Homo sapiens: one gene and its partners. The protein of the gene in region 1 purifies or fractionates together with the protein of each later gene. This does not show direct contact. Each region holds a gene or a part of one and is shown in the gene's direction. Other genes may lie near its edges.

Region 1 (7,769 bases):
CCTGCCTGCCACACAGGACCCTGGGGACCCCAAGGTAAGGCCCACCCTGCTGTCTGGATGCTGAAGGTGTAGGGGTGAGGGCTCAGCCAGGTGTGCGTGACAGGGGCAGAGCCACCCAGAGAGAGCTACTCTGAGGGGAGGACGGAGGGAGTGAGTGGGAGGGCCGCGTCCCTGAGGACCCCATAGAGGAGGGGGTGCTGAGCTGGGACCAGGCCTCACTCATGGTGAGCAGCCCCCACTCACTCGGTGCGGGTCTGCTTCCCGGCACAGCTCCGTCGCTCTGCTCCCTCCCTCTGTCCCCCTCCTTCCTCCCAGTCTGCCTTGGTTCCTGCCTCTGTCTTAGGAAATTCTTGGATTTCAGAGCTGGAAGGGCTCTAGGAATGCTCTGACTTAAGCCTCTCCTTTCACTTCTGAGGACACTGAGGGACAGGGAGGTACAGCGACTTGCCCAAGGTCGCACCATTATTTTGGTGTCCTAGTTTTTCTTTGTTTTTTGCTTCTATATATTGCATTTGTCTCTTTCGTGTATGTTTGCAAAAGTGACACAGAAAGACAAAGTCACACAGAGAGACAGCCCCCTTGATAGCAGCAGAGAGTGTCGGGGGTACAGAAACATCCCAACACAAACAGGGAAGCGCACAGCTGCCCTGGCCTGGAAGCAGCATGGGGGCAGCCAGGAGGAGGAGGAGGAAGGTGCCTGATGCCCCTGGCCTGGCTTCGGAGCGTCCCCTCTGCTGACCGTCACCAGAGGCGGGGGTTGAGGTAGTCTCCCCTCCTCCCTCTCTGGAGCTGGGCGTGACCCCAAGGACTAGCCAGAGGTCCCCCGAGGCTGGTGCTTAGCCCGGGCAGGTAGGCTGGATGGCGGAAAGTGGGGCCTGGTTTAGAGATGGCCAGAACACCGAAACCAAGGCTTTGTGGTCCTCACAGCGCCAAGTGGTCTCACTTTCTCCCTCTCTCTTTCTTTCTCTCTCTCCCTCTCCTCTCGCGTTCTCTCGCTCTCTCTCTCTCTCACACACACACACACACACACTCACTCAGGCCGCCCCAGTGAGGGTGATCGTATTCTCCTAAGGAGAGCTTTATTGCTGGGGGTGTAGGGAAAAGGGAATAGAGGAAAGAGCTCTCTCCCAAGCAATCCGTTCTCCCTCCAGTCTCGCTTCCTTTGTTCCTCCCTTCCCTTCCTCCCTATCCCCTCGCCAGCTTCTCTTCTCTCCTTCCAGCCCCTTCTTCCATGTTCCCCGCTCTCCTGCTCCTCCTGCCGCGCCCCCCGAGCGGAGTCCCCGTGGTGGGACCTTCACGGAGGGCAGGAGGGCGGGACTGCGGCTGGGGCCCGGCCTAGGTGGCCATCTTCCCGCAGGGAAGGAGTTAAGTCTCTTCCCCGCATCCCTCCTCCCTCCGCCGCCTCCCCGGCCGCCGCGGAGTCCTGCAGCTGGGCCCCGGGCTGACCTTCACCGGGAGGGAGGCCGCGGCGCGCATGCCCAGGCCGGGGACCGGCGCGGGCGGAGGGAGGGGCGGCGCGGGCCGGGCCGGCCCGAGCCCCCCCAGCTCCCCGGCCGCCGCCCGCTCGCTCGGGCGCGGTGGGGGCGAGGCGGCCGAGCCCGTCCCGCAGGCCGCGGCGCATCTCTCCCTGCGCGGGGAGCGGCGCTTTGCCATTTGGTGCTGGTGGTGCTTCAGCGAGGGAAGGAGCGATGGGGGGACGGCAGGGGGGACTGCGGCGCCGGGCGCCGGGCGGCCGCCCTCGCCCCCGACAGGCGCACGGCCTGCCCCAAGTGCGGCGGGCGCCCTATTGCGCTGGGAGGAATCCACGCTCTTCCCGGGCCTCCTTCCCACCCGCAGGAGCCATCGGCGGCGTGGCACACCGAGCGCCCTTCTGGGGTTAAGCCACTGGGGATCCTGGCCTTTGTGAGGAGGGAGCCCTGGCCCGGGCCCCCACACTGGCGCCGCCCCAGCTTTCTGGTCTGAAGGCTCCTCCTGTCGCCCACCTAAAAGCAGTACGCAAATGTGTCTGGGCCTGCCTTGTGAATGGGGCCCACCACGGGATGTGGAGGTGCTCAAGGTGTGCCTGTGTGTGCAGAGCCATGTGGCTTCCTCGACCTTTTGGTGCTTGTATTGGTGTGCCTGCTGTGTGTGTGTTGGGAGGGTGTGTGTGCAAGGTGTATCTATTGTCTGTGTACACTTAAGGATGTCTCCCAGAGGGGTGGCTCAGGAGAGCGCTTATGTATGGACTTGGGTGAAGCTCACCAGCTCCTCCACAGGGGCTTCACCATAGCCCCTCGTCTAACTACCTCCCGCAACCTCTTCCACCACCAAGACCAAGCCCGGGATCTCCCAGGCCCTGCCTCAAACTTCCCAGCTACCCAAACTGGAGTGCCCAGCATCTCCTCTGCTGTCTTCTTTTCCCAAAAGGTCTCTCCAATAGTTGAGAACACTGAGCTTTAACAAAGCCTAGGGGTGTCTATCTCCAACCCCCAGAACCTCCAAGGCCTGTGGTTTCCCATGCCCCTGCTAGACGCACCCATGGTGGGTGGGGGTGCCCATGGTAACTCACACCATCAGGTAAATGGCAGAGTACCAGCTCCATGCATTGGCTCATTAAGCTTTGCAAGCATCAGGTATCTGGGGTACTGTTGAGTTCCTGTGCCCAGGCATGGAGGAAGAGTGGGAGTTAAAGATCAGTCTCTGACCTTATGGGGACCTTAGCCTCTCTGGGAAAGCAAAGCTAATGTCCTTGAAGCACAGTGCACGTCAGGCCAGTCCAATGCCAATTCATGGTGCTGGGTAGATGGCAATGAGCATTTGGAGAAGAGAAAAATCTTTGCATACAAGTAGGACGAAGGAAGGCTTCCTGGAGGAAGTGGGGCCTGGGCTGGGCTTTAAAGAATAGGTGTGATTTGGACAAGCAGAGGGAAGGCAGAGGGCAGGCAAAGGGCATTCCAGGTAAAAGAATCGGGGGCAGGGGCTAAGAAATGGGAGTGAGCGGGGATTCTGGAGGTTAGCAGGCAGACTGGGCAAGTCACTTCCCCAGGTTCCCAGCAGCATGACCTATGGCAGACAGAGGCAGGCCACCCACCCATCCCCACCGTGTCAGGGCCCAGGCTCTGTGTGTGGGGGTGTGTGGGGGGTAGTCTAGGCTAAAGCCCTGGGAGAGATTTGGTAGCAAGGGGATCTCTAGGTCCCCTTTCAAGCTAGGGGTGGTGGAGGAGCAACCTGGACCAGATGTCCTCCCTGACATTTCAGATTGACAGTGGGCACCTAAATGAACAGTGACAGCCAAGAGCACAACCAGGGCCAGCAGAAATCAGGCTGCAGGCAGAAAGGACCCCCTGGGCAAAGGCATTCTGAAGGGTTTAGGGTCAGTACCCTTCAGTCTTCAGGGCCCAACTTCAAGTAAGTGTTTCAACAAACTCCCCTAGGCACTAGGCTATGGTCCTGCCCTCACCTGGATTCTCACAGTGAGGCCCCAGCAGACCCCCAAACTTGACCCAAGGGCCTTGTTCCAAAGCCCACGGCTCCTCCCCAAGAAGGAGAAAAAAGGGGCGTGGCCTTTGGGGACCTGGGTAGGCCCAGGACTCCCTGCCTGGGTATGTCAGGATTTGCCCCTCCTCCTTCCGGTCCCTCCTCCACTCCAGGGACTGCCAACTCCTTCCACACGCCCCTTCTGGGGCTCCCTTGCCACCCCACGCCACACCCCAGCCTCAAGACCCCTCTCTTTGGGGTCTTGAGGCCGGCCCAATATACCCACTATACCCAGCCCAGCTGCCCCAACTCCTCTGGGTCCCCTAACCCCACTCCACCCCCACCCCAAGGAAACCAAGCCCAGCTTGCCTCGTTCTCTCCACGCACCCACCCGAGCACCCCCCTGGCGCTGCGCCATTCCCCACATTCATTCTCTTCCTGTTCTCATGAGCACAATCCCTGTCCCTCTTTCTGAAATACTTCCCCTATTGCCCTCACTTTCTCACAGAGCGGCAAACAAAGACTCACATACCCAGAAATAGCCTCTCACAGAGCTGAAAGGCACAGGCCATGTCCTGCCACACACGCAGGCGCGCGCGCACGGAGGCTGTCGTGGAGGGAGGCACACATACAGGGCGTCTGTCTGCACGCACATAAGCTGCCACGCCACAAAAGGGCGCGGACACACACGGCGTGTGAGACAAGGGCACACACAGCAGTGGACGCAGGGCCACGCCGCCGCCCGGGCACACCCACCGCCGCCGGCCCCGGGCAGGCGCGAGGCCTCGCGGGCCGGGCTCCCCCGGTTCCTGCCAGCGAATGTTTCCCTGCTCGGCCTGCCAGGTCTCTGGGGAAAGGGCCTCAGAAATGCAGCAGGAGCCGCTGGGGGAAAAGTTGGAACTGACTGTTCCCTGCCTGGCGCGGCCGGCGAATTCCCTGACGGAGAAACTATTTGTGGCGAGAGCCGGTGGCCGGCGACCCCCCGCCGCCTCCCCTGGCGTCCCCTCCCCGCGCCGCCTCCCGCGGGCCTCGGCGGCTTCGGGCTGCAGCACTGCTGCCCAGCGCCCGCGGCCGGGCTGGTCGGCGCGCCTCGCCGCTTATCTGCGCTGTTTGGACAGCGGGCTTGGAAAGGCAGGCGGCCCCGTCCCCGCCGAGTCAACAGGCAGACCCCGGGCCGCCGGACTATTTCTGTCTTATCAGTGCAGGAATGCGGCAGCCGCGGCGGCGGCGGCGGCGGCGGGCGGGCGGCGGCGGCGTGGGCCGTGGGCCGTCAGGGCAGCCCTGAAGGGGCCCCCTCCCCACTCCGCTCGAGTAGAAGTGTGAGAGAGCCCAGCAGGACTCAGAGGGGAGAGTTGGAGGAAAAAAAAAGGCAGAAAAGGGAAAGAAAGAGGAAGAGAGAGAGAGAGTGAGAGGAGCCGCTGAGCCCACCCCGATGGCCGCGGACGAAGTTGCCGGAGGGGCGCGCAAAGCCACGAAAAGCAAACTTTTTGAGTTTCTGGTCCATGGGGTGGTGAGTGGGGGAAAGTTAGCGGGGGAGGGCAAGCGAGCTGGCTCGGGCTGAATGGAGGGCTGATCGGGAGGGGCCGGGAGGGCGCTCCCGCTCTCCCACCCCTCTAGTGGGGGGCGTCATGGCCCACGGCCCGGCCGCGGGACTGTGCTGGCGCCCTGGCACCCGAACACGTCGCCAGGCGGCCGGCCGGGTCTGACGCGAGGCGGGGAAGGGAGGCGTTTGCATGGCTCTTGTCAGGGGCGGGGGTGGGACTTGGGGACTCTACCCCCCAAGTAGGGGGTCCTCGCTGTAGCCGACAGGTTGACTTTCGTTCTTTTCCTTGTGGGCCCAGGTGTTGCCCCTGCCCTGGGGGTGGGGGTGGGGGATGGGGACATGGCAGAGGCTGGGCTGGGCTGTCTGTTCATCCGTTGGGACAGTGTCACTGCTTGTGTCTCCGGAGCAAGGAGCAGGTGACCCTGGAGGCACTGTAGCGGGAAGCTCGCAGGCTGAGCCACCTCTGCATCCCAGCGGGAGGGCTCTGGAGCTTCTGCCTTAGGGTGGGGGAGAGGACCGCTCTAGGGACTTAGCCCAAGTTAGGGGCTCTGAGGGTCTCCTTGGCGGACTCAGCCACCAGAAGCTGATGTCCTTAACTCCTCGAACATGTGAAGGAAGGGGCTGGAGTTGGGGACATGAGGCCTAGAGACCGAAGGGACAGGGGAGCACTGTCCTGCCACAGGCAGGCTGTGAAGGCACGTGGGAGCCCGGGAGGCTGGAGCTGAGTCAGTAGGGCCCGGCTGGGAGGGGTATGGAGGGGTGGGGAATGGGAGAAGCAGGGGCTGCGACTCTTGGGATGGGTGAGGGAGTGGAGGCCCTGTGTAGAGGAAGCTGTCGGGTTTACTATGGCCAAATTTGGTTGTGACCCCAAGGAAGACACCCTCTCAGTAAGGCCAGAGTCCCTAGGATTTTGGCCTTTCATGGGGATGGGGCTGGTGGCGGGCACAGCTCTCTGGGGGCTCTGAAAGCCTCCCTCTCAGGGCCTCTTCAGCAGATGGGCCAGTATCCCTGGCCTTGATAACTGGGGAGAGCAGCTGACAGGAAGAGGGGGACTCCCTGGAGTGGCCTGTCCTCCAGCCCCAGGGACCCCTGGGGGTAACTTCCCAAGGTGTCCATGTCAGCTAGCTGAGTTACCAGTCCTAACCTGGCTGCTGGTGGGAGCCCCTTTAAAAAGGCCCATCTAGTGGGGAGAGGCTGTACACGTGGACTGTTTTTTTAATCTGGTCAACTTACAGCTTCAGTTCTTGAGTGGCTGTGAGCCCCAGTGCCCCACCTAGCTGGTGGCCAGGCCTGGGCTCCATTCTGGGCTGCTACCCTGGAGGCCTGAGTGACAGGGTCAGGTGGGGTGAGGGAAGCAGACACATGGACAGGCAGGTTTCACTGCAGGAGAGATAGGCAGAGACAGCTGCTGACCGAGGGTGGGAGGACATTAGGGTTAGACACAGAGCCTGGAGGACCAGGAGGGAGAGGTAGCAGTTGGAAGGAAAACAGCAAGCCCAAGGGGGCCCCTCCTCATGCCTGGGGGTGAGGTGGGTGGTGTGTCCATGTTAACAGTGCCAGGGTCTGCATCCCCTGCCCTCTGATCTTCTTCCTGCTTTCGTGGTCCCAGTCCCCATCCCACCCCGCTCTTTCTGTTTCACAGCCCCTGAAACTCTCTCTGGCCCTCCCCATCTCCCTTCTGGAGTCTGGACAAGTGGGGTTTGGAACACTTCGCTCGATGCATTTGCATCTCATTTACACCCCATCTGACCACCCAGGGGTAGTGGCAAGGGAGGAGGAGCCGCCTCCTCTCAGTCTCCACAGCCCCCATGAACCCTGACTGCTGACCTCACTGGGGTGGGGATGGGAAGAGGAGGAGGTGGCTGCTGACCTGGGCAGACAGGAAGGGAAATGTGAGTGCAAGTGTCACTGCCCTGACCCACCCCAGGCCCCCCTGGGCAGCCCACCTCTAACGCAGTTCCCCTCCTCCCAATCAGAGAATCCTGGCTGTGTCTGGGGCGCCCCAGCAGGCTGCCCTTGCCTGCCCTGCCTCCAGCCCTCACCCTGGGAGCAAATTATGGGGGCAGCTTGGTCAGCGAAGACCCTGGATGTGGGGACTTGGAGTCAGCCGAGGGGAGTGGGGTTTGGGACCCAAGGGTCAAAAGCAGGGACACAGGGAGCAGAGTGGCTGAGATGAGCTAGTGAGTACCAGGCAGAACCGCCCAAGAAGTGGAGCCTGAGAAGGAGGAGCAGGAGGAGGAGCAGAAGTCGGAGCAGGGAGCCGGGTACCGGACCTCAACCAAGCCGCAGAGAGCAAAGCCCTGGGCCCCCAGGAGGCAGCCCTTCAGGGGCTGCCTGGGCCAGGATGAGCTGTGTGACCTTGGCGAGGTCATTTTTCTCCTTGAGCCACAGTGGCCCCATCCGTCAAGTGGGGATGAAAGGACCTGCTCAGGCTGTCTTGCAGAGGAGCATGTGGATGTGAACATCTTTGAAAGGTTGAAAGGCGCCATTAATATTCATTTTTGCGGTACCTTCCGCAGCCCCGAGGCTCGCAATGCCCTGTGCGGTGCCTGGCTTCAGTTAGCTTCCTGCAGCCAGACGCCAAGCCCCTCCGCCAGAGCCGCGCAGATTCCGGCGCCCCTGCCCCTCCTACCCATCGCTCCCACCCATCGCTCAACGCTCAGGGTCACCAGCCGAGGGTCTGGTGGGGGAGGGGAGACGCCGGCTCACCGCGCCTGGAGCGGGGGGCCCTGGTCTGACCCACGGGCGCCCGTTTCTGCTTCACCCCCGC
Region 2 (7,192 bases), on another chromosome or scaffold:
AGGCAAGAGAATGGTGTGAACCCAGAAGGCGGAGCTTGCAGTGAGCCGAGATTGTGCCACTGCACTCCAGCCTGGGCAACAGAGCGAGACTCCGTTTCAAAAAAAAAAAAAAAAAAAAAGGCTGGGCGCGGTGGCTCATGCCTGTAATCCCAGCACTTTGGGAGGCTGAGGTGGGCAGATCACGAGGTCGGGAGATCGAGACCATCCTGGCTAACACGGTGAAACCCCGTCTCTACTAAAAATACAAAAAATTAGCCAGGCGTGGTGGCGGGCGCCTGTAGTCCCAGCTACTTGGGAGGTTGAGGCAGGAAAATGGTGTGAACCCAGGAGGCGGAGCTTGCAGTGAGCTGAGATCACGTCACTGCACTCTAGCCTAGGTGACAGAGCAAGACTCCGTCTCAATCAAAAAAAGGCCAGAAAATTAAAATCCACGACTCACACTAAGCGGGAGTCCTTTCCCACGATAATCTGGGCCCTGTCGGACTCCACCAATGGTATGCTGGTAAATGTTCAACCACCAGCTCTGGCTGGGGCTGGGGAAGGAGGGTCCTGATGTATAAATCATTTGCCGATTTCCATGGTGTAAATACTCCCTCCACAGCTGATTCCAAACTCTCAGCATGAGGTCACTAAACACAGAGCTGGGAAGCAGAAGCCTGTAAACCATCTGCAGCACATCCCTGGCTCCACCCTCAGACTACAAGAAGTCAACCAGTCTTGCACAACTATGCGGCCAGGATTCGCATCACCTGAGTGGTCGGGGGCTCACAAACCCTGAACTAGGATTGAGGTCACCCCAGACTAGCAGTGACCTGAGGGGCCTGGCAGAAGCAAATATAAATTATTTCTAGGGGGAGGCCTCAAATTATCCCTATGAATAAATTTTAAAATAGTGTCCAGCATGGTCAAAGAGAACCAGGCATATAACAAGGAACTATGACACCATGAGCAAGACCTAGCAGAAACAGACTCTTGGAGACTTCAAATACTAGAATCATCAGACACAGGCTGTAAAACTACTGTGCTTTGTTGAAAGAAAGAAGTGTAAAAATACCTGCAGGAGACAGGAAACTACTAAAAGTGACATACTAGATTTACAAAGGACATTTGAAGAAAGCTTTATGGTTTTATTGGGGATCAAAATCACAAATACTTTCAGGGGCCAGACAGGTAACACAAATGAGTAAAGTGGCTATGAGTGCACTGGTGACCCAGATAACTCTGTCTGAAAGATACAGACAGAGCTCTCTGCTCTAGCCGATGGGTGCCATGTGGCACTGAGGGTCCAGTTTGCAGATCTGCTGGTTCTAGAGAAGCTGGGTATTTTTTTTTTTCCTTCCTTCCTTCCTCCCTCCCTCCTTCCCTCTTTTTCTTCCTTCTTCCTTCCCTCCCTCTCTCCTTCTCCTCATCCCTCTCTCTTTTCTTCTTTCTTTCTTTCGTTCTTTCTTTTCTCTCTCTCTCTCTCTCTCTCTCTTTCTTTGCTTCATGCAGTGGCATGATCTTGGCTCACTGCAGCCTCTACGTTCTGGGCTCAAGCCATCTTCCCCACCTCAGCCTCCTGAGCAGCTGGGGCTGCAGATGCGCACAACCACACCTGGCTATTTTTTGAATTTTTTGTAGAGATGGGGTTTCACCATGTTGCCCAGGCTGGTCTCAAACTCCTGGCCTCTAGCAGTCCACCCACCTCGGCCTCCCAAAGTGCTGGAATCACAGATGTGAGCCACCGCGCCCAGCCTAGATTTCTTTTTATTATGATCAAATACACATAAAATTGACCATTGTAACCATTTAAAAGTGTACAATTCAGCGTCATTAAGTACATTCACATTGTTCTGCAACCATCACCACTATCTCATTCCAGAACTTTCCTATCACTCCGAAAGGAAACCCCACATCCGTTAGCAGTCACTCCTGCTCTCCCTCCCCCTTGCCTCTGGCAACCACCAATCTGATATCTGTCTTTATGGATTCGCCTAGTTGTAGATATCTCCCGCAAATGGACTTACGCATATTTATCCTTTTGTGACTGGCTTCTTTCACTTAGCGTGTTTCAAGGTTCACCCATGTTGTAGCATGTATTCATTCCCTTTTATGGCTGAATAATATTCCATTGTGTGGATAGACACATTTATCTGTTCCTCAGTCACTATTTGAATTCTGACATAATATTTTCCTATTTTAAATTTTAAGATACATTTTTTTAAAGTTTCATGTGGCCCAAAGCACATACCTATTGATCTCACATATCTCTGTGAGATCTGTTTTATGACCTGCTGTTGCATATTTTCCCAGAAAATTCTCGGAACGATTCTCTGAAGTCCTTCTTTCTCTTTCTCTTTTTTTTCTTTTTCTTTCTCTCTTTCTTTTTTTGTTTTGTTTTGTTTTATTTTGTTTTGTTTTGTTTTTTTGAGATTCAGTTTTGCTCTGTTGCCCAGGCTGGAGTGCAATGGCATGATCATTGCACCTCTGCCTCCCAGGTTCAAGCATTTTCCTGCCTCAGCCTCCCGCGTAGCTCAGATTACAGGCCTGCACCACCACGCCCAGCTAATTTTTGTATTTTTAGTAGAGACAGGGTTTCTCCATGTTGGCCAGGCTGGTCTCGAACTCCTGACCTCGTGATCTGCCCACTTCGGCCTCCAAAGTGCTGGGATTACAGGCATGAACCACCGCGCCCGGCCTTTTTTTTTTTTCTGAGACAGGGTCTCACTCTGTCTCCCAGGCTGGAGTGCAGTGGCTGGATCTCTGCTCACTGCAACCTCCGTCTCCCAGGTTCAAGCGAGTCTCCTGCCTCAGACTCCCGAGTAGCTGCGATTACAGGAGCCCACCACCGCGCCCGGCTAATTTTTGTATTTTTAGTAGAGACGGGGTTTCACCCACCATGTTGGCCAGGCTGGTATCGAACTCTTAACCTCAAGTGATCCACCCGCCTCGGCCTCCCAAAGTGCTGGTATTACAGGCATGAGCCACCGCGCCCGGCCAGTATTTGTTCTTTTCTTCATTTTTCACGTCAGGAGACTGCGTTTCAGAATAGTAAAAACAAATGCCTAGGAAAAGGCCTGCGGTCTCTCCATTTCCACAGTAGCGTGTTCCCCAAAGACCAAACCCTCAGGGGAAACGTCTAGAATGAGTAACAACTTAAGGCTGCAACCTTAAACTTTCCCAGGACTCAGTTTCCCCAGCTGTGAAATGGCTGCTGTCGGGCTGTCATCTCCAGGCCCGGGGCGCTGACATTTGGGCCACTCTCGGTCTCCCTCTTCATTCTGGGCGCGCATTAGCTCTGGTCCGGCCGGTTCCGCTGCAGCTGAACAGCAAGATGCGGCACCCAGGTTACCCTGATCATCGCAGATTTCTCCCCGGGGCTCTGTTCTGAGGCCTCAAAAGTGCTCCTTGTAGATGGGACCAGGGGTCATTTGGGCAGTAGCAGCGCCTGGTCTCAGTCTGGTACTGAAGTCAGGAATGGCTTAAGGTGAAATCGTGGTCCTCTGGTGAAGCTCAGCGAAGACCCCCTCGCCTTGTTTATGACAAGAGAACTTCTGGGGGCGGGAGGAAGAGTCCCTGTTACGATGCTGATCATCATTGAGCTTTTGCTGAGCAGAAAACTCTTTAGTACTCAAGGTCGAGAGTCTCTGGTGGTCTGCCTGGCACCAGGCACCTTCCTACAACCCTAGTTTTCCAAAAGGACAAAGCCTGGGGCAGGCGACGTCCTAGCTCGCATTTGAACAGGGCCGCGGGCCAGCAGAGATGCGCGATGCCCAACTCTTTCCAAGAGCACCTCGCGTCCCGAACCGGTGCCTTCAACTCGGAGAAGTCAAGAGACCCGCAAGAAACTTGCACGACTGCACCCGCCGCCGCGCTCTGGGGGCTGGGCAGGGGCAGCTGGGCTGGCTCCCGGGGAACGCGACCCCCCCGCGCCCCGCAGACCGGCTGTCTCCCATGGACCCCTCGGCACCTGCAGCCTCCGAGGAAGGGTCAGCGCGCGTGTCCGCACGCCCGCCCCCACCGCGCGCCCAGAGCCGGGGGTCGCCGTGCGCCCTTCGCCACCTCCCCAGGAGGGCGTCCGGGGCGTCCCCTCTGGGGGCGCAGGAGGCCCGGGGGCGCTGCCCGGTGGCCGCGGCGCCCGGAGGCCGCACTGCCGGCGGCGGCGGCGGCGCGGCTCCCCCTGCTCTGTGCAGCTGCCGCCCGGCGCTTGCGCACTGGGCCAGGCGCGCGGCGGCCCCGGGCTTTGTGTGTGTGTGTATGTGTGTGTGTGTGTGTGTGTGTGTGTGAGTGTGTGCGTGTGAGAGTGCGAGTGTCTGTGCGCGAGTGAGTGAGCGGCGGGCGGGCGCGAGTGTGGCCGCCGCGGAGCGCGAGCAGGACCCGGCGGGCGCGCTCCCCAGCCTCCGTCTCCCCGCCGGAACCATGTCGGGCAGGTCGGTTCGAGCCGAGACGAGGAGCCGGGCCAAAGATGATATCAAGAGGGTCATGGCGGCGATCGAGAAAGTGCGCAAATGGTAAGCGGAGGCGCCCGCCGCCAGCCGCCTCCCCGGCCGCCCCGAGCCCGAGCGCGGCTCCAGAGAGCCGCGGGGCGCAGCGCCCCGGCCGCCTGCCCCGGCCCAGCCCCGCCGCGGGCCCCGGGACTTGGCGAGGGCGGGCGGACGGGCGGGCGGCGCGCGAGCCGGGTCACCTGCGCCAGGCTGGGGCCGCGGCCGCTGCCCAGGTGCGCTCGCGCCTGTAGCCCACCTGGCGCGGCGGCCCGGAGGCGGCGGGCGCCGGGGCCAGGCGGTTGGAGCGGCGGGGCGGCCCCCGCCGCGGCGCTCGGCTCCCGGGAGGGGGGCTCGGGGCCGGCCCCAGAAGCCATTTCGTTTTGTGCAAGTCACATGAAAGCGGCTTCCCGCGCGCCGGGGCCGCGATGCCGGCGGCGGCGGGGAGAGCGCGAGCTCCATTGTGCAGGCTCCGAGCGGGCCGCCGCCGCCGTCTCCTCCCCGCGCACCCCGGCCCGCGCCCCGCCGCCCTCCGCCAGCCCCGGCCCGCCCGGCCGCCCGCTCCCGCCTCCCGGGCCCGGCGCCCTCGAGTCTGCGGAGTTTGCAGAGCGCGAGCCGTTTAAATTTAGCGCTTTGGGCTGCCTGGAGCGAGGGCTCTCGGCGACCAGGAAAGATGGGGGCGAGCGCTGGGAGCCAGCGGCCAGGGGCGCGGGGCGCCCACGTCCCACCCCGCTCTGCGCGGCGCCCCGGGCGGGGGGCTCGGGCCAGCCGATGTTTTTGGCCAGAAGCCGTTCGTCCTGGGCCGCGGCTGCCTCTCCACACCGGGAGCTCGTGTTTGTTTTGCGGAGGGAGCTGTTGTTTTTGTTCTCTGCACCGGGGAGAGGGGGACTTGGTGGCGGCCGCGCGTGGTTTTCGGGATCACATTAGCGTCCGCCCGGCGTGGCCCGGTCGACATTAAGGGGATCGAACCTTTCCGCGGCCTCGTCGGGGTCTGCTCGGAATCGGCCCCTGGGCCAGGCCCGAGGCGCAAGCAGATCGCCAGGTTGGGTCAGAGTTGTTGAAAACTCCCCGCTGCCTGATTTCAACTTTATTATTTTTTTCCCACGCCTTCACTGGGGTCCCGGAGGGAGAGGAGCCGCCGCAACGCTGGCTCTGAGTGTCAGCGCCCGCGGGCTCGTCTCGACCCTTTATTTCGAGCCTGGAAGCTGGGCAGGCCCTGTGGCAGGGGATGTTTACGTTTGGGGGTGTCGTTTCTCGAGTAGCGCCTCGGTCTCTAAAAGCCACTGGGGGCGAGCCTCCGGTGTGGCGGTGTCACAAGTTAGCTGTCCTTTCTGAGTCAAACCCAACAAAAAAGGCAAGAGGAAAATCAATAAAGTCCACGTGCTCCCCGGCCTCCTATGGAAAGGGCTGGCTGCGATGGCCGGATGCCCGGCCGTGGGCTGGGTTTGGCTCCAGTGGGACAAAGAATTTTCAGAACCGTGAGAAGGGGAGGCTTTCCAAAGTTGAGATCCAAGTCGTCGGTGTCTCGGGAGCTCCCCTGGTACACAGGGTGCCCGGTGCCCGACTGGAGCCATTTAAAAATGGCAGAAACAGCTGCAGGCCAACACACACACGCTGGAAAACAACCCGCAGCCCCCTCTACTGTGGGATTCCCCGCGGGAAGCCCGGAGTTGCTCCCCTCCTTGCCTCAGCCCCTGTGCAAAGAAAGAACTGGTGTCTGTGCCTGGGTCCCTTCTGTCGCCGGCCTGGAGGTTGGGAAACAGCCGGCAAGCCGCCTTTCTCTGCTCGAGGAGGCGTGGTGGGGCCTCCTACTCCAGGTTCCCGGCTGGACAGAGGCTCCTGCACCCTGACAGCTGCTCCCGCAGAGCGGCCAGCTGCTCTGCAGGGAGGGCAGATGGAGAGATGGGGCTTCCCACCCCGCGGGCCCCGGGGCGGCCGGCCTGGAGGCCTTCCAGCCCGCTGACCCCGCGGGGACCAGGCCTGTAGTTGGAGCTTGAGGGGCTGTACCTCTGCGCCTCCCTGGGTTTGGGGAAACAACACATCGTGTCCTCTGAAGACCTCAGGCTTTGGGATCTCATGGTCCAGCTTCCAGTTCACTTCGTTGCCGCGACCTTGGGCATATCATTGTCACTTCTCTAACCATGGTGACCCGGGGTTTTGTGCTTGGCTTCCAGGTCCCCTCGGGTTATTGAGGACGATTGAGGTCATGCCTCCGAGAGCACCGCGCCCTGGGCGCAGGAGGAGCTGTTGCTCAGTGTTGTCTGTGTTGTAAGGTGGACTTTGTAGAAACTTGGCTTTGAGGTTTTTTGTTTTTTTTTTTTTTTGGCCCCTTCTAAGCGAAAGCCTTGGACTTATTGCCCAGGTTTCTCTGGCCCCTGAGAAGCCATATCTCACCTTCCCCGCGCCTTCGGATTGGGTCTTAGACTCAGCCCATGAGACTGTGGGTTGTTTATTAATTGTGTGGTCACCAACCATGCATTTCACCACTGGTGGGGGGGTGGGGTTGCCAGGTTTAACCAGATAAAAATACAGCACACCCAGTTAAATTTGAATTTCAGATAAACAATGAAAGATTTTTTTAAAAATAAATGTTTTTGAGTATGTCTCATGCAATATTTGGGACACACTTATACTAAAACATTATCTAATTTATCTGAAATGCAAATTTAACAGGGCACCCTGTATTTTACCCAGAGGGAAGCCGAAGTGTTTGGCAGATCATTTGGCCCCAT
Region 3 (7,823 bases), on another chromosome or scaffold:
AGGATTACAGTACATTCCTTCAGGAAGGATGTTACTTGGTACCAAATATGCTTGCTTTTGTCAGGTAACTGGGAACATTTCAAAAATGGGTCCATCTTGGGCCAGGAGGGGTGGCTCACGCCTGTAATCCCAGCATTTTGGGAGGCCAAGGCTGGTGGATCATGAGGTCAGGAGTTCGAGACCATCCTGGCTAACATGGTGAAACCCCGTCTCTACTAAAAATATAAAAAATTAGCTGGGCATGGTTGCTCGTGCCTGTAGTCCCAGCTACTCAGGAGGCTGAGGCAGGAGAATTGCTTGAACCTGGGAGGCAGAGGCTTCAGTGAGCCGAGATCGTGCCACTGCACTCAGCCTGTGCGACAGAGACTCCGTCTCAGAAAAAAAAAAAAAGAAAAAAAAAATGGGTCCACCTTAATCCAAGTTCAAGGCTGAGCTTTCCTCTCCCCCTTTCCTGGACCAAACAGATAATAGGATTCTGAACTATAAGTCCATGGAAATTGATTTGTATCTTACAGCACATACGTGTCAGTAGTGGGGTATCTGACTTCCTACTTTGAGCAAGCTCTGGGTTTTTATTTTCGTCCCTCCCCACAAAGACTGCCAAACAACAGTTTAACTTCATGGTTATATCTTCCAGATCAGTAAATGCCTCCAGGACAAAAACTGCTTCAAAAGCTGAACTTACCTCTCTGGGTTTTAGCTTCCTCAATGTTGGCACAATAATTCTTCACTGTACTATTAGCTTTTCAATGCTTTTAAGATTTTTTTTTCACTTCCTCTTCTTTTTTTAATTTGTCTTCAGAGGGAAGGTTGGAATCAAGTATCTAATCAGGAGCCTATCTCCCCTTACCTACCCGAATAAAATATTAAGAGCCATCCCAGGGGAGTTCCTCGGATTTTTCTCCCTGCCCCCACTGGGTAATAGCAATCTTAAGCTTTACAATTGGAATTGATCGCCCCAGCCAACAGTGGGACCCGCTTTTTATTTTCTTGCCCAGTGGCATGTGGAGCGAAATATGGCCTACTGACGGACGATCTGATCGTGATTTAGAGAAACTTACTGCGCCCCCTGGTGGAAGCATTATTCCCTTGGGTCTTAAAAGCTCTAAATCAGCCAGAGCGCAGAGTTGAGATTCCAAGAATGTGCATGTAAAATTCCTACTCCGTGATTCCTGTCTGTCAGAGAAACACTATATATACTGTTTTCTATATAGAGAGAGTACCTGTTGTTCGGCGACGTAACATGTCTTTCTTTCTTTCTTTTTTTTTTTTTGAGACAGGGTCTTGCTCTGTCACCCAGGCTGGAGTACAGTGGAGCCATCTTGGCTCACTGCAAACTCCACCTCCTGGGTTCAAGCGATTCTCATGCCTTAGCCTCCCAAGTAGATGGGATTACAGGCACCACCACCACGCCCGGCTAACTTTTGTATTTTTTGTAGAGACTGGGTTTCACCATGTTGGCCTGGCTTGTCTCGAACTCCTGGCCTCAAGTGATCTGCCAGCCTCAGCCTCCCAAAGTGCTGGGATTACAGGCGTGAAACACCACGCCCAGCCCGTAACAGCATTATGTGTAATAGCTCCAAACTGGAAATAACCCAAATGCCCATCAGCAGTAATATGGATTAAACAGCAATGTAAGAACTATTACCACAAAAGGACATGAATGAATCTCAGCCAGGCATGGTGGTTCGCGCCTGTAATCCCAACACTTCAGGAGGCCAGAACGCAAGGAATGCTCAAGGCCAGCCTGGGCAACATAGTGAGACCCTGTCTCTATAAAAAAAAAAATCAAAAATTAGCTGGGCATGGTGGCGTGTGCCTATAGTCCCAGAGAGGCTGAGGTGGGAGGATTGCTTGAGTCAGGGATGTAGAGGTTGCAGTGAGCCAAGATTGTGCCACTGAGATTTTTTTTTTTTTTTTTTGAGACACTGTCTTTTTTTTTTTGAGACGGAGTTTTGCTCTATTGTCCAGGCTGGAGTGCAACGGCACAATCTCAGCTCACCACAACCTCCGCCTCCTGGGTTCAAGCAATGCTTCTGCCTCAGCCTCCCAAGTAGCTGAGATTACAGGCGCACACCACCACGCCCAGCTAATTTTTTTGTATTTTTAGTAGAGACGGGGTTTCACCATGTTGGTCAGGCTGGTCTCGAACTCCTGACCTCATGATCCACCCGCCTCGGCCTACCAAAGTGCTAGGATTACAGGCATGAGCCACCATGCCTGGCTGACGCTGTCTTAAAAAAAAAAAAAAAAAGATTAGTCAGGGTGTAGTGGTGTGCCTGTAGTCTCAGCTACTCGAGAAGCTGAGGTGGGAGAATTACTTAAGCCTGGGAGGTCGAAGCTGCAATGAGCCATGATTACACGACTGCACTCAGCCTGGATGACAAAGTAAGACCCTGTCTTAAAAAAAAAAAAAATCTCAAAAATGTAATACTGTAGACAAAGCATTGTGGGGGCTGAAAAAAAAAAGGAAAAAATTAATATTGAACAAAAGAAGCCAAATTCAAAATAGGACATATTGTATGATTCCATTGACATACAGTTACACAGACACACTAATCTTTAGGGCTAGAAGCATGAGATGGCTACTGAGGTGCTAGTGATGTCTTTTTCTTCATCTGGGTAGTGGTTACACAGGTTTGTCTATTTTGTAAAGATCAATCAAGCTACAATTATTTTGCATGGTATACCTGCATCAAACCATCTCGTGTACCCATAAATATATACACCTACGATGTACCCACAAAAATTAAAAAATTGAAAAAAATTAGTCAAGCTATGAACCCGGAAGGCGGAGGTTGCAGTGAGCCGAGATCACGCCATTGCACTCCAGCCTGGGCAACAAGAGGGAAACTCCGTCTCAAAAAAAAAAAAAAAAAAATTAGTCAAGCTACATAAGATCTATGTGCTTCTCTTTATGTATATTTCAATTAAAAGTTTGAATTTAAAAATAGTACTAATAATAAATAGGCTAGCTGCATATAATTGGAAAGGCAGCTTATGAACCCAGCATCAATAGCTTTCAGTTCTTTTAGGATTGTTTAAGAAAAGGTTACATCAGCTGGCCAGGCGTGGTAGCTCATGCCTGTAATCCCAGCACTTGAAAGCCTAGGCGGGCGGAACACATGAGGTCAGGAGTTCGAGACCAACCTGGCCAACGTGGTAAAACTCTGTCTCTACAAAAAATACAAAAATTAGCTGGGGGCACCTGTAATCCCAGCTACTCGGAAAGCTGAGGCAGGAGAATCACTTGAACCCAGGAGGTGGAGGTTGCAGTGAGCTGAGATAGTGCCACTGCACTCTAGCCTGGGCTGGAAGGAAGAATTTGTTAAGGAGCGACAAGAGCAAAACTCCGTCTCAAAATAAATAAATAAATAAATATAAACAAATAATGTTGTTACGAACATTCTTGTACAGCTTTATTTTTTTTTTTTTGAGACGGAGTCTCGCTCTGTCACCCAGGCTGGAGTGCAGTGGCGCGATCTTGGCTCACTGCAAACTCCGCCTCCCAGGTTCACGCCATTCTCCCACCTCAGCCTCTCCAGTAGCTGGGATTACAGGCGTCCGCCACCATGCCCGGCTAATTTTGTTTTTGTATTTTTAGTAGAGATGGGGTTTCACCATGTTAGCCAGGACGGTCTCGATCTCCTGACCTCGTGATCCGCCCACCGTGGCCTCCCAAAGTGCTGGTATTACAAGCGTGAACCAATGCTCCTGGCCTGTTTTTTTTTGTTTTTTTTTTTTAAGAGACAGGATCTTGCTATGTTGCCCAGGCTGGTCTTGAACCCCTGGGCTCAAGTGATTCTCCCACCTCACCCTCTCAAGTAGCTGGGATTACAGGCATGAGGCATTGCACTCAGCTTCTTGTACAGCTTTCTTGTGTGTATATCCAGGAGTGGACTTTGCTGGGTCATAGGGTATGTGTATTTTCAGCTTTAGTGATTATATTTATATATATATATATATATATACATATGTATATATATACATATGTATATATATGTGTATATATATATATGTATATATGTGTATATATATATGTGTATATATATATGTATATATATTTTTTTTCCTTTTTTTTTTTTTTTTTCTTGAGATGGAGCCTCGCTCTGTTGCCCAGGCTGGAGTGCAGTGATGTGGCTCCAGTGGCTCACTGGAGCCTCAAACTCCTGGGCTCAAGTGATCCTCCCACCTCAGCCTCCCTAGTAGCTGGGATTACAGGCATGCACCACCATGCCCAGCTAATCTTTTTTCTTTTTCTTTTTTTCCTTTATTTATTTATTTATTTATTGAGAAGGAGTCTCGCTCTGTCGCCCAGGCTGGAGTGCAGTGGCGCGATCTCGGCTCACTGCAAACTCCGCCTCCCGGGTTCACGCCATTCTCCTGCCTCAGCCTCCCGAGTAGCTGGGACTACAGGCGCTCGCCACCACACCCGGCTAATTTTTTGTATTTTTAGTAGAGACGGGGTTTCACCGTGTTAGCCAGGATGGTCTCCATGTCCTGACCTCGTGATCCGCCCGCCTCGGCCTCCCAAAGTGCTGGGATTACAGGCGTGAGCCACCGCGCCCGGCCCCGGCTCCTGCTCCTCTAAATATTAGAGGCAAGCCTCGAACCGGAGCTCCGGGATGCATGCCAATCTCCGGTTGCGCCTGCGCGTCGGGCTCCCGTGGGGTCCACGCATTTCCTACCCGGCCCCCGCGAACAGGCGTAAAGCTCTTTCTTCAGTGCTCGCTCTAGTGCGCGCGCCCGGACGGCGCCTGCGCAGAGGGCAAGGAACCTGGTACCCCGGTGCGGTCCCGGCGCCTGCGCGCTGCGGACTGTGGGGCTTCTCGGCCCGAGGCAGAGGAACAGGGAAGATGGCGGCTGTGGTGGAGAATGTAGTGAAGCTGTGAGTGGTCGTTTCTTTCTCTCCTAGGGCGGCAGGTTTTGTAAAGGGCCTGGGAGTAGGGGGCGGTGGGGGAAGGGACTAGGCGGAGAGAGGGACATCCCCGGGAAAGCCATGTTGCGACTCCTGGTGGGGAGGGCAACAGGAGACTCCGGAGAAGACGTTGCGCTTCTTTGGAAACTTGTGGAGGCCCTGGTGGGGGCACACTGGAGCCCCGACGGGCGGCATCCCTGCGGGGCTGTGTGGCCTCAGCGTTCCTCGGGGCTGACGGTTTCCAGAGCATGGCGCCCTGCCTGCACGCGAGACTCACCGTCCCGGTCCTCTCCCGAGACGCCTCAGTCCGGAGGAGCGGGGCCGAGGCCCGGGCGGCCCTACGGCTGGCCCGCCGCCCACCCCGCCCCGTCCCGTCCCGTTCGCTGCAGCAACAGGCTCGGCGGCCCCTGCGGAGTGCACTGCGGGGCTGGCTGTTTCAGTTCCAGGCAGCCCCGTGATGTTTGGGAGGATCTTGGGTGGCAGGTACCTAAGACTACAAATATTCTTGGGAAGAATTTATCGAGGAGCGGATCCAGAAGGGAAGGAACTTCAGGGGAGTGGGCCTTGGCCCCGTCCAGTAGCAGCCATCAAAAACCTGCAACTGGACCGAAGCCGTTCAGGACAGCTTAGCCTAAAGGGGCATCTAGGTGGGCATTCTTCCTATTATACGATACCATTGTGCTGGTCAGATTTCAAGCAAAGTTAAAGTTAATAGCTGTTGGGGCCATGGACGCTGGCCTATGAACTGCTTCCTGTGAGTTAAAGATGCTTTGGGACTTGATTTATTCCTACAGAAGAATCAGAATGAGTTTTAGATTGGGTTAATGCATGGTGGGCGAATAGAGCTTCTTTTAATGGGTATGTTGGGCTTGGTGCAAGGGTGGGAAAATTGAGTGGTGTCTAGCTGTCCAGTCAGGGTTTTTGCATTTTGACTGGATGACGAGGTAAAGGTTCGGTAACTCTTCTAAGGGACTCACAGCTTCTCATCTGTCTTTGTCGTGGCCTGAGCCCCACTCTTCCTAAGAGCCTTTTTAAAGAGTAAGTTGCTTCTCCCTCCTGCCTGAAGCCTTTTCTTTGAGAATGCTTTCCCACTTCCATTAAGCTAAGTGCCTTTCCTCCTCTTGTGGTTTGTTTTTTTTTTTTTTAAGTTGCTTTCTGCTCTATCCTGCTGTCTCTTTCAGCCACCCCTCCTCCCAACGCTATTGTCTTTCTCTCTGATCTGCCCACTCCAGTTTCCCCAGCTCTTTCTTCAGGCTGACATTTTTCTCAATTTAGAAATGACACTGTTGATCTACCATTTATCCAGTTATCCTTCCTGACTCAGATGTTCTTTCTTTGTTTCCCTGCGTCTTTGTTGACTTCCCTCATCCCATTGTAAGGGGATGTTTTACACAGGTTTCTCCAAAAATAAAAAGGAAGATTCTCATTGTACTGGGGGAGTATCAGACTTGCCTAGGTTTTGGGAGTTAAACGTAGTGAGGTTCTTCGTGTTGGAAGATTTTCCTCAGAGAAATAGGGTTGCCAGTGCTTTCAAGTTGTGTCATAAGTGAGGGGTTGCCCATTTAAACAGAGCGTGACATCTTGTTTCTCTTTGAAAAACTGTAGAGATTGTGAGCATCACCAGCCACTAATTCCTGAATGCCAGTAATGAGAAACCAACTCTCTCCTCCTCATTTCTAGCTGCACAGGGCCTCAGATCACAATTAATACGTACTCCCACAGAATTATCCCTTTAAGAAGGGGCTTCTATTCTTCCAGTTCATTTGGAGATATGGCACTTCTCTTGATTATAGTGTGCCTAGTCTTCTGACAGCTGATGTTATACATTGAGTACATTGAGGTCAGGACCACTAGCTCATCTTTTCTTTTTTTTTATTTTTTTAGACAGAGTCTCACTGTTGTCGGCCCGGGCTGGAATGCAGTGGCACGATCTTGGCTCACTGCAACCTCCGCCTCCCGGGTTCCAGCAATTCTCCTGCTTCAGCCTCCCGGGTAGCTGAGATTACAGGTGCCCACCACCACACCTGGCTAATTTTTGTGTTTTTAGTAGAGATGGGGTTTCACCATGTTGGCCAGGCTGGTCTTGAACTCCTGACCTCAGGAGTTCACCCGCCTCGGCCTCCCAAAGTGCTGGGATTATAGGCGTGAGCCACCACGCCCGGCCCCTCATCTTGTATGACTTGCATCTTGTCCTGGGAAAAGAATTTTCTTATTTGTAAATTTCTATCCCTTCCGAATGTGATGTCAGAAATGAAAGTCTTGGCTGGGTGCAGTGGCTTACGCCTATAATCCCAACACTTTGGGAGGTTGAGGCAGGCAGATTGCTTGAGGTCAGGAGTTTGAGACCAGCCTGGCCAACATGGTGAAACCTCATCTCTACTAAAACTATAAAAATTAGTTAGGTGTGGTGGCGCACACCTGTAGTCCCAGCTACTTGAGAGGCTGAGGCACAAGAATCGCCTGAACCCAGGCGGCAGAGGTTGAAGTGAGCTGATATCACACCACTGCCCTCCAGCCTGAGTGACACTTTTAAGACTCTTTCTTAAAAAAAAGAAAGAGGCTGTTGGGCGCGGTGGCTCATGCCTGTAATCCCAGCACTTTGGGAGTCCGAGGCGGGCAGATCACAAGGTCAGGAGATTGAGACCATCCTGGCCAACATGGCGAAACCCCACTCTACCAAAAATACAAAAATTAGCTGGGCATGGTGGCGTGTGTCTGTAATCCCAGCTACTCAGGACGCTGAGGGAAGGGAATCACTTGAATCCAGGAGGCAGAGGTTGCAGTGAGCCAAGATCGCACCACTGCACTCCAGCCTGGCAACAGCAAGACTCCATCTCAAAAAAAAAAAAAAAAAAAAAGAAGCCGGGCACGGTGGCTCATGCCTGTAATCCCAGCACTTTGGGAG

What was found. The genes of interacting proteins can lie anywhere in the genome.
Region 2: the proteins of SMARCD3 (region 1) and BCL7A purify together in Homo sapiens (affinity purification with mass spectrometry; 5 studies listed by BioGRID and IntAct, with this or other methods). This does not show direct contact.
Region 3: the proteins of SMARCD3 (region 1) and DPF2 purify together in Homo sapiens (affinity purification with mass spectrometry; 5 studies listed by BioGRID and IntAct, with this or other methods). This does not show direct contact.

Annotation. Positions count from the first base shown.
Region 1 is NC_000007.14:151,245,682-151,253,450, reverse strand, and holds the start of SMARCD3 (SWI/SNF-related matrix-associated actin-dependent regulator of chromatin subfamily D member 3), read left to right. Parts: upstream 1-4,756; 5' UTR 4,757-4,888; coding exon 4,889-4,966; intron 4,967-7,769. UniProt on the Homo sapiens protein: Involved in transcriptional activation and repression of select genes by chromatin remodeling (alteration of DNA-nucleosome topology).
Region 2 is NC_000012.12:122,017,694-122,024,885, forward strand, and holds the start of BCL7A (B-cell CLL/lymphoma 7 protein family member A), read left to right. Parts: upstream 1-4,190; 5' UTR 4,191-4,398; coding exon 4,399-4,490; intron 4,491-7,192.
Region 3 is NC_000011.10:65,329,031-65,336,853, forward strand, and holds the start of DPF2 (zinc finger protein ubi-d4), read left to right. Parts: upstream 1-4,821; 5' UTR 4,822-4,856; coding exon 4,857-4,888; exon of another isoform or gene 4,889-5,565; intron 5,566-7,823. UniProt on the Homo sapiens protein: Plays an active role in transcriptional regulation by binding modified histones H3 and H4. Is a negative regulator of myeloid differentiation of hematopoietic progenitor cells. Might also have a role in the development and maturation of lymphoid cells.